Linked DNA regions of Homo sapiens. The protein of the gene in region 1 purifies or fractionates together with the protein of each later gene. This does not show direct contact. Each region holds a gene or a part of one and is shown in the gene's direction. Other genes may lie near its edges.

What was found. The genes of interacting proteins can lie anywhere in the genome.
Region 2: the proteins of ETNPPL (region 1) and LIPG purify together in Homo sapiens (affinity purification with mass spectrometry; one large-scale study listed by BioGRID and IntAct). This does not show direct contact.

Annotation. Positions count from the first base shown.
Region 1 is NC_000004.12:108,745,028-108,750,357, reverse strand, and holds part of ETNPPL (ethanolamine-phosphate phospho-lyase), read left to right. Parts: intron 1-894; coding exon 895-1,120; intron 1,121-2,198; coding exon 2,199-2,353; intron 2,354-3,506; coding exon 3,507-3,596; intron 3,597-3,828; coding exon 3,829-3,959; intron 3,960-5,330. UniProt on the Homo sapiens protein: Catalyzes the pyridoxal-phosphate-dependent breakdown of phosphoethanolamine, converting it to ammonia, inorganic phosphate and acetaldehyde.
Region 2 is NC_000018.10:49,571,142-49,575,556, forward strand, and holds part of LIPG (endothelial lipase isoform 1 precursor), read left to right. Parts: intron 1-4,115; coding exon of another isoform or gene 4,116-4,192; exon of another isoform or gene 4,193-4,221; intron 4,222-4,227; coding exon 4,228-4,415. UniProt on the Homo sapiens protein: Exerts both phospholipase and triglyceride lipase activities. More active as a phospholipase than a triglyceride lipase.

The DNA of each region.
Region 1 (5,330 bases):
ATGGGAGAAAGATGTAGGCTGGGAGGCTAGGCCAGTCTCTCCTCTTCACATTTTTCTGCCTGCTTTATATTCGCTGGCAGCTGATTAGATTGTGCCCACCAGATTAAGCATGGATCTGCTTTCCCCAGCCCACTGACTCAAATGTTAATCTCTTTTGGGAACACCCTCACAGACATACCCAGGAACCCAGGATTAATACTTTGTGTCCTTCAATTCAATCCAGTTGACACTCAGTATTAACCATTACACAAGCCTTCCCAATTAGTAAATATTTGAAGACTAACCCTGTTAACAACTACTTGTTTGATTCTTTCTCTTCCCACTTAAAAGGTAATATGGTAATAGGACTGGGTGCTGTGGCTCATGCACTATAATCCCAGCACTTTGGGAGGCCAAAGCAGAAGGATCACCTGAGGCCAGGAATTCAATACCAGCTGGGCAACATAGCAAGACCCCCCTCTCTACAAAACCTTTTTAAAAATATTATCTGGGCATGGTGGCACACGTTTGTAGTTCCAGCTACTGGGGAGGCTGAGGTGGGAGGATGGCTTGAGCCCAGGAGTTTGAGGTTACAGGGAGTTTGATCATACCACTGCACTCCAGCCTGGGCAACAGAGTGAGACCCCATCTCTTAAAAAAAAATACTGCAATATAGCTTACTTTAAGTAGCACAAACCCAACTGGTATGGAATATATCTAATCTAAAAATTATGTGATTATATTGTAAAGTCAATGACATTTATGTGGGGTTTAGAGTACTGAAATGTTTTTTAAGAAAAATTAAGGCTTCAGGTTAACAACTTTTTTTTTTTGTCTTCAATAATTTGCATCTTTGTGGGTGGGTTTGGGGATCTCAGTGACCTGAAGGCATTAGACTGCCGCTTTGCTTTTCAGATATGTACACGGTGCAGGGGGTGTGTTTATAGCTGATGAAGTTCAAGTGGGCTTTGGCAGAGTTGGGAAACATTTCTGGAGCTTCCAGATGTATGGTGAAGACTTTGTTCCAGACATCGTCACAATGGGAAAACCGATGGGCAACGGCCACCCGGTGGCATGTGTGGTAACAACCAAAGAAATTGCAGAAGCCTTCAGCAGCTCTGGGATGGAATATTTTAATACGGTACATTTTGGTCTCCAACTTTAATGCTAAGAAGGAAAAATAATGCATGTTCTTATATTTTTTGCCAATGTAGTAAAGAATAAAGCTCAGTATTGCCGGCTAACCACCCAGAACTCTGGCCAAAGTTTTTTCTTATTTTAATAAAACATCTTAAATACTTACATATATATATAAAATTATACTTTAAGTTCTGGGATACATGAGTAGAATGTGCAGGTTTGTTACATAGGTATACATGTGCCATGGTGGTTTGCTGCACCTATCAACCCGTCATCTAGATTTTAAGTCCCACATGCATTAGATATGGCCAAACTTTTATCTAACCAGATTTTATTCTGTCTGACAAAATGCTCCTTGTATTTCTGCTTGTGTATCTTTACCTGTCCTAAAACAGGCTTATTAATTTTTCCAATGATAGATGGTTGCCCTGCTAAATTCTACAGGTTATGATATTTTCATTTCTTTGTTTCATATCATACTTAAATTTCCAAAACACTTTTAAAGTATTTTTATGACTCAGTACTATAAATGTTATACAGCTGTCATAAGAGATACTAAATTTTTATCTTTGGGATATTATATTTTTTTGACTTATCCCCATAAGCTTTAAGCTTGGAAAAATTATTGTAGTTTGTTCAGTATATATAATACGACTTGTTACAGCTAAAAGTAAGATTCAAATCTGAGGACATAAATTGCTTGGGGAAAATGTCATTGCTTAGCTACTTTTACTCAGCTCTTCAAGGGCAGAAACCCCTATTTCCCTCACTGGGCAACACTATGAAATCCTGAACTCCCAACATAATGTCTGCTTTTGTTTGGATGAGCAAATAAAATCACTGGTAGTCCTTCATACCAGTTATGCAGCTTGGATAATATAATTTAGAATGAATTTTCACTCAGTCCTGAATATATAGAATCATGCTCTATTCTAAATATGAGAAACTAATATTATAAGAGAACATTTTATTTAAATTATATCTTCACTTATGTATGTATGAGCCAAATTTCTCATGGATGAGGGAATACCACTCATTCAACTGGTATATTTTCTCATTTGTCTTTTTTTTTTTTACAGTATGGAGGAAATCCAGTATCTTGTGCTGTTGGTTTGGCTGTCCTGGATATAATTGAAAATGAAGACCTTCAAGGAAATGCCAAGAGAGTAGGGAATTATCTCACTGAGTTACTGAAAAAACAGAAGGCTAAACACACTTTGATAGGAGATATTAGGTATGTTCATTATGAAGTTGTCATGTAGTTACTCATTTTTTTCAAAATAATAATAGTTTATAGGCTGGGCAACATGGTGAGACCCCGTCTCTATTAAAACTACAAAAAATTAGCCAGGTGTGGTGGCACACACAAATAGTCCCAGCTACTCGGGAGGCTGAGGCATGAGAATCACTTGAGCCTGGGAGGCAGAGGTTGCAGTGAGCCGAGATTGTGCCACTGCATTCCAGCCTGGGTGATAGGGTGAAATCCCGTCTCTAACAATAATAATAATAGTTTATATTTTATCTTGTAAGTTTATAATAAAGTACATAAAACTAAATCTGGAAAACACCAAAAAAGAGAGATAGCAAAAATTATTCTTATTCCAGAATCCAGATATCACCACTGTTAACATTTGGGTGGGGCCGGATGTGGTGGTTCACATCTGTAATCCCAGCACCTTGGGAGGCAGAGGCAGGAATATTGCTTGAGCCCAGGAGTTTGAGACCAGCCTGGGCAACATAACAAGAAACCTTGTTTCTATAAAATAAATAAATAAACCAACAACAATAAAAAAACATTTGGGTATATGTCTTTCCTGGCTTTTATACTTTTTTAATAAAGTTAGGATAATGTCAGCACCCAAAAGATGAAAAGAAGGAACTTAATGTAGCTCTAAATAATTTATTGAAAATTATTTAAAATGCTATTCTGAAAAGCTGGATATTTTTCATATATATGTATGAAATACTGACATATATATATATAATATATATATATATTATATATATATATATAATATATATATATATATTATATATATATATAATATATATATATATTATATATATATATATAATATATATATATATATTATATATATATATATATATATATAATGTTAACATTTATCATCATTAACATCCTGAGAAACTAAATAGCATGAAAGGGTTGTTTTTAAGCCATTTTCTTTTATAATTGAGAAAAGAAAACTGGATGACAAAAACTAATTTATTTCCAAAAGTAGAAACAACTGTGAACATAGATTGGTATCTTGATTTAGTTAGAATTAAACTTGGAAATTAAATGGAAGTTTGGTGATAGTGTTAACTTTTTGTGACAGTGAAGAGTTGGACAGATTGTGGGTCAAGTTTTTCTTCACCTCTCGCAGGGGCATTGGCCTTTTTATTGGAATTGATTTAGTGAAGGACCATCTGAAAAGGACCCCTGCCACAGCTGAAGCTCAGCACATCATCTACAAGTAATTCACCCCCACACCCACCTGTTTGGTATCTTGGCTGCAGGATGCCTACCCACTTGAAAGCTTGCTTGACTTCCTCCCATCCCTCTGAAAAAGGAAAGTTTAAATACATCCTATTTATAATGTGGGCTTCTTAAATGCAGAATACTTAAACTGCTCTATGTTCACATAATTCTTCAGTAATCGTAGTTATCCTTTGCATACACTCACATGTATTTCCTACACAAATTAGGATGAAAGAAAAACGAGTGCTTCTCAGTGCCGATGGACCTCATAGAAATGTACTTAAAATAAAACCACCTATGTGCTTCACTGAAGAAGATGCAAAGTTCATGGTGGACCAACTTGATAGGATTCTAACAGGTGGGTCCATGGATCTTTAAGATGTCTTCTTGTTCCCTCTCCCAAACCCACCCCTCAAACCCTGGTCTAGTCATAATGAGCATATGCATCTTGTTATTCATGATGGAAGTGAGGCAGGGCAGAAATAAATGTGTAACTTTCCATTTAGGACTAGAAAAAGATAGCTGAAAAGTAACTACATGGACTCTTAAATTGAAATTTTCAGTTTGTATTCATATAACTCCAAATATAAGTTTTTGCTGAAAGAACATAGTTTTGTCATTTATTTTTACTTTAGACTAGCATATTTAAAAGTGCATGTCTGCATTGTGCCATGGACCACAAATACTACAGTATATAGTATTTCAGCATTGTGTGATTAATACATGAAACATTTCTAATAAAAAAATTATATAGGCTACAGTGTGACAGTTCTTTGCTATATGCTGAATTGCTTAACTTTGCGTGGTTTTTTTTTTTTTTTTTTTTGAGATGGAGTCTCACTCTGTCATCCAGGCTGGAGTGTAGTGCTGTGATCTCGGCTCACTGCAGCCTCCGCCTCCCGGGTTTCAGCGATTCTCCTGCCTCAGCCTCCCAGGTATCCGGGATTACAGGCACCCGCCACCATGCCGGGCTAATTTCTGCATTTTTAGTAGAGATGGGGTTTCACTATGTTGGCCAGGCTGGTATCGAATTCCTGACCTCAGGTGATCCACCCACCTCGACCTCCCAAAGTGCTAGGATTATAGACGTAAGTCACCGCGTCCAGCCTAACTTTGCATTTTTAACTTTTATTTTTAAATTTTTATTTATTTATTTATTTTCTGAGACAGAGTCTTGCTGTGTCACCCAGGCTGGAGTGCAGTGGTGGGATCTCGGCTCACTGCAACCTCCGCCTCCCAGATTCAAGCAATTCTCCTGTCTCAGCCACCTGAGTAGCTGGGACTACAGGAGCATGCCACCACACCCAGCTAATGTTTGTATTTTTAGTGGAGACAGGTTTCACCATGTGGGCCAGGCTGGTCTCGAACTCCCGACCTCGTGATCTGCTCACCTCAGCCTCCCAAAGTGCTGAGATTACATGCATGAGCCACTGCACCCGGCCTTAATTTTTATTTTTTTCTTTTGCTTTTTTCTTTAAAAATATTTAAAATATTGAAAATCTTTTACTATTTAACTTTTGAGGACTTTTGTTATTCAGAATTATAGTCTATCATAAAAATATATCTTGTTTACCTATATTATGCAACTAGGTTAATTTATTTTTTTGTTATGAACATACATTGGATTAGAAAGTAAATTAGCACTGTAAAACCATGTTGAAGAGCATATCATGATAAAAATGATAGATATTGTCGTTTTTGCTTTAGTTATATTTTTACAATTCAGGCC
Region 2 (4,415 bases), on another chromosome or scaffold:
CATGACTGCTCATTAACCCCTTGCTGGTGCAAAGCAGTTTGACTGGAAGCCACTCGGGTTCCATTGTCTGAGCGCCTCTTCCTAGCCCCTGAATGAGAGGTGTGATGTTTCAGATCCAGGCACCTGAGTTCAAATTGTAGCACACACCACAGTCCAGGCCCAGAATGTCAGTAACGATGACAAACTGCACATCTTGCCTTTCTCTATTTCTAAATCTGAAATGAGATGGGGCTAGGGAGGGAACTTTCCAGTTCTTTCCCCCTGCCTGTTTGAGTGGCATCTGCTGGGGTGAGGGCTTTTCTCCTGAGGGTGGCAGGAGAGCCAGGCAGAATGCTAATTAGTGCTCTGGGATGTTTGCATGGAGCATGATGCCCACATGCCCTGAGCATGGTCCCTTCCCTCTGGCCTTTCTCTGTAGAGAAGGGGCCTGGCCTCTGTCCAGTTGCCAAGCAGCACCCCTGACACACGCTGTTGTGTATGTCTGATGGGGGAGGCTGCGTCCTCTCCTTTCCCCTTGGTAGACTTCTCATGGACCTGTGGACAAGGTGATCGCAACTGGTAAGAGGACAGATTGAGACTTGCATGGGGTCCTGCGTCCAGTGATGCCACTATGCTAAGGCCACCAGGCAGTCCTTAGCCTGGGCCTTGCAAGGGTATATCTGAACCCCAATCTTGCTTGGACCAGAGGGTGTGGATGGGGGTTTGCTAGAGTTTTACTTTCTTAGGCTTCTGAGAGAAGCCTGTGATACTAGGAAAGAGGTCATATATTTATAGTTGAACCTGTGCCTTGTTTGCTATAATCAGGTAAGCAAGCAGATGAATTTATTCAAGAAATGTGTCCATATGTGCAGGCTAGATGCTAGCTAATGTCAAATACCTCATGTGTGGCCGGGCGTGGCCGGGCGCAGTGGCTCACGCCTGTAACCCCAGCACTTTGGGAGGCCGAGGTGGGTGGATCACCTGAGGTCAGGAGTTCAAGACCAGCCTGGCCAACATGATGAAACCCCATGTCTACTAAAAGTACAAAAATTAGCCGGGCATGGTGGTGGGTGCCTGTAATCCCAGCTACTCAGGAGGCTGAAGCAGGAGAATCTCTTGAACCCAGGATGCGGAGGTTGCAGTGGGCTGAGATTGCGCCACTGCACTCCAGGCTGGGTGACAAGAGTGAGACTCTGTCTCAAAAATAAAAAATAAAAAATAAAAAACAAACAAACAAAAAACACCTCATATATGACAGCTACTCTATGCTATCTCTGAACCACATAGCAACCCTGAACATTCTACGGAGGGGGAAACTAGGACTCAGTGATTAAGTAAAGGGCCCAATATCCTGGGCCCTATAAGTAGCAGAGCTGGGACTCAAACCCATGCTGTCAGATTCCAGATCCCATGCACCTCACTGCTGTGCCATGCTGCCTCTCTTCTGTGGACAGAGATAAAGTAGCCAGGCATGGTAGTGCATGCCTGTAATCCTAGCTACTCGGGATGCTGAGGTGGGAGAATCACCTGAGCCCAGGAGGTGGAGGTTGCAGAGAGCCGAGACTGGGCCACTGCACTCCAGCCTGGGCAACAGAGTGAGACCCTGTCTTAAAAAAAAAAAAAAAAAAAAAAGTAGCCGTTGAACTACAGCAGGCCCTGCCCTGCCGGGCCAGAATGCACAGCCCTGGAAGTTTTACATGTGTGCATGTGTGTGTGCTCCATTTGCTGGACAAAGCAACTTTGGAGGAGTCTATGACTGAATGGAAGAAGCGGCGGAGGTTCTCTATCTCCTCTTTATTTAAGGAGGCAGTTCTCCCTGTCATTCATCCCTAGTTAAAAAAGTTAAATGTGCCACTGTACCCCTGAATCTGTGGGCCACAGATATGTGTCAGGGACAGTCAGAGCAGGGCAGGCAGGCTCTGGCTGGGTAGGTGAAGGCCCAGCCTTGCCTGCCAGCCAGCCTGTGAAACCCCATCAGCTGCCTGCATTCCTCCAGCACAGCCTGGTTTCCATGGCACTGACCGTCTGGTGGGGACCTTTGTTCACACCAAGTAAAGAGCCTCTCTCTTGTATTGATTGCAAAGCAGAATGTTGCTCTCTTTCTCTTTCCTCCAGGGGACATGGTGAGAGGCAGGGAGAGGCCGCTGTGTCAGTACTGCGGTCCTTGCGGCCTCTGAAATGGGTTGTCGTGGGCTGTTCTGGGAGCACACTGCTTTTGTGCCATCTTTCTTTTGGGTCCTGGGCTAGGGATAAACTCTCAAGCAGCCTGGGCTCCCTTTCTGTCTTGGTTGCACATAAAGTTATCTAAATTTGGCTGGGTGCAGTGGCTTATGCCTGTAATCCCAGCTACTCAGGAGGCTGAGGCAGGAGAATCGCTTGAACCCAGGAGGCGGAGGCTGCAGTGAGCCGAGATCGTGCCACTGCACTCCAGCCTGGGTGACAGAGCAAGATTCCAACTCAAAAAAAAAAAAAGAAAAAAAAGTTATCTAAATTTTTGGAAACTATTTAGCGTTTCAGCCTCTACCAGTTCTCATATGAGTAATGAGTTCTGCAAGTTGACCGTCCACTCTAGACGGTAGCTCTGCCTCTTGTTTATCCTGAAACTACCATCTCAAGTCTCCTGATAGGCTCCCTGGTTCTAATGTGCTGTGGTCTGGTGAACACGGTCGTTAACCATGTCCTCCTTTCAGGACTCTTGTTGGTCACATCTCCTCCCAGCCTTGGTGTTTCGAGGCCAGGTTTTCTCAGCCTAGGCAATATTGACATTTGGGGCCAGGTAAGGTTTTGGTGTGGGGTGTGTGTGTGTTGGGATTGACTTGTGCACTGTAGAATGTTTAGCTGTATTCCTGGCCTGGCCCTGCTAGATGCTAGCAACTCTCTCCATCAGAATGGGGGCAATAAAAAGGTCTCCAGGAATTTCCAGATGTCCCCTGGGGGGCAAAGCCACTTGTAGTGGTGAACCACTGTTCCAGCGGCCCTTCCTTCCTGGCACATTTCATCCCTTAACTTTCTCCAGGTCCTTCCTGTGTGTCTGTGGGGCAAAGAGCTGTTCTGGTTGGGATAAATCTGGTTCCCATAATCACTTGGGCTTGGTAATAGTAGCTAATACTGACAGGCACTCAGTCTCTTAAGATCTCACGTGGACTTTGAATTAAGGTATAAATTCAGGTTCCATTTTATAAATGATAATGAAACACAGGGAAGTTTTTCAATATTTGGCCCACAGAATACCTACTTTTAGGATCATCCGGGGAATAAATATCTATTTCTATGTGCCATAATTCATATCTACCCACTAGGAGTTCAGGCACTTGGGAATCTGCATTTTATACTTTGCAAGTTCTCTTTTGGAATGGTTTTACATTAATGCAGTTTTCAAATCAAAAGATGGTGAAAGTCTCTCTTACTGCTCTGCTACCTGTCCGTTTCCCTTACCCACTCTCTCCCCCAACGCACACGCATACAGGTAACTAGTTGCTTGTGTGTCCTTCCAGATTTTTTTGTAGCTGTATGGTGGAATTTAAATTTAACAAGCTCCCAATTTCAAATATGAGAACCAGTGCTCTCAACAGTGCTGCTTGCCTGCTCAACACAAAATGTTTGGAGGCGGAAAGGTTTTCTCACGGTGGCTGCAAAATAGAGGAATTCTGGAGGCCTGATGTATGGATTCTCAGTGTATTGGGTGTCCTCTTCTCTCTCACCATTCCACCCCTGGGCCTGATTAAAGGAAGAAGAATAAATTCAGATACAAATAGCTCCGTTTGGGGAGACTGGATTCTCCTTCCAGAAGGATGTAGGCAGCTTAGTTATTCTGTAAAAATTCTGCTACAATTAAGGACATGAAAGATGCTCAGTGGCAGAATGAATGGGACAAATGGCTTAGTTTCAGGCAGTCTGAGTTCTTTCTAGAACTGCTTCAGTTTTAACAGGAGCAGTTCCTTGGAGCTGTGTGGCAGCGAAACTTGTGGCTAGTTGACGGGGTTTGGCTGAGGTGACGGGATACATGAAGGCTTCAGAAGAAAGTATAAATTCCATAACAGTAGGATTTAATTTCTGCAATGATGTCTTGGGGTCAACTGCATATGGAAATGGGTTTCTTATTTTCTTCCATGCTTTCCATGTCTTGATTCTCCCAGCTGGTCTCAGAAGTCATCTTCATTCTGCACACTCAGACTTAACTTGTAATCAGGACTCACTGACCAGGTGCACCTGACACCACAGCTGTTTTGGGGCCTCCTTCTGCTGCAGGTTTGGATCCTGCCGGGCCCATGTTTGAAGGGGCCGACATCCACAAGAGGCTCTCTCCGGACGATGCAGATTTTGTGGATGTCCTCCACACCTACACGCGTTCCTTCGGCTTGAGCATTGGTATTCAGATGCCTGTGGGCCACATTGACATCTACCCCAATGGGGGTGACTTCCAGCCAGGCTGTGGA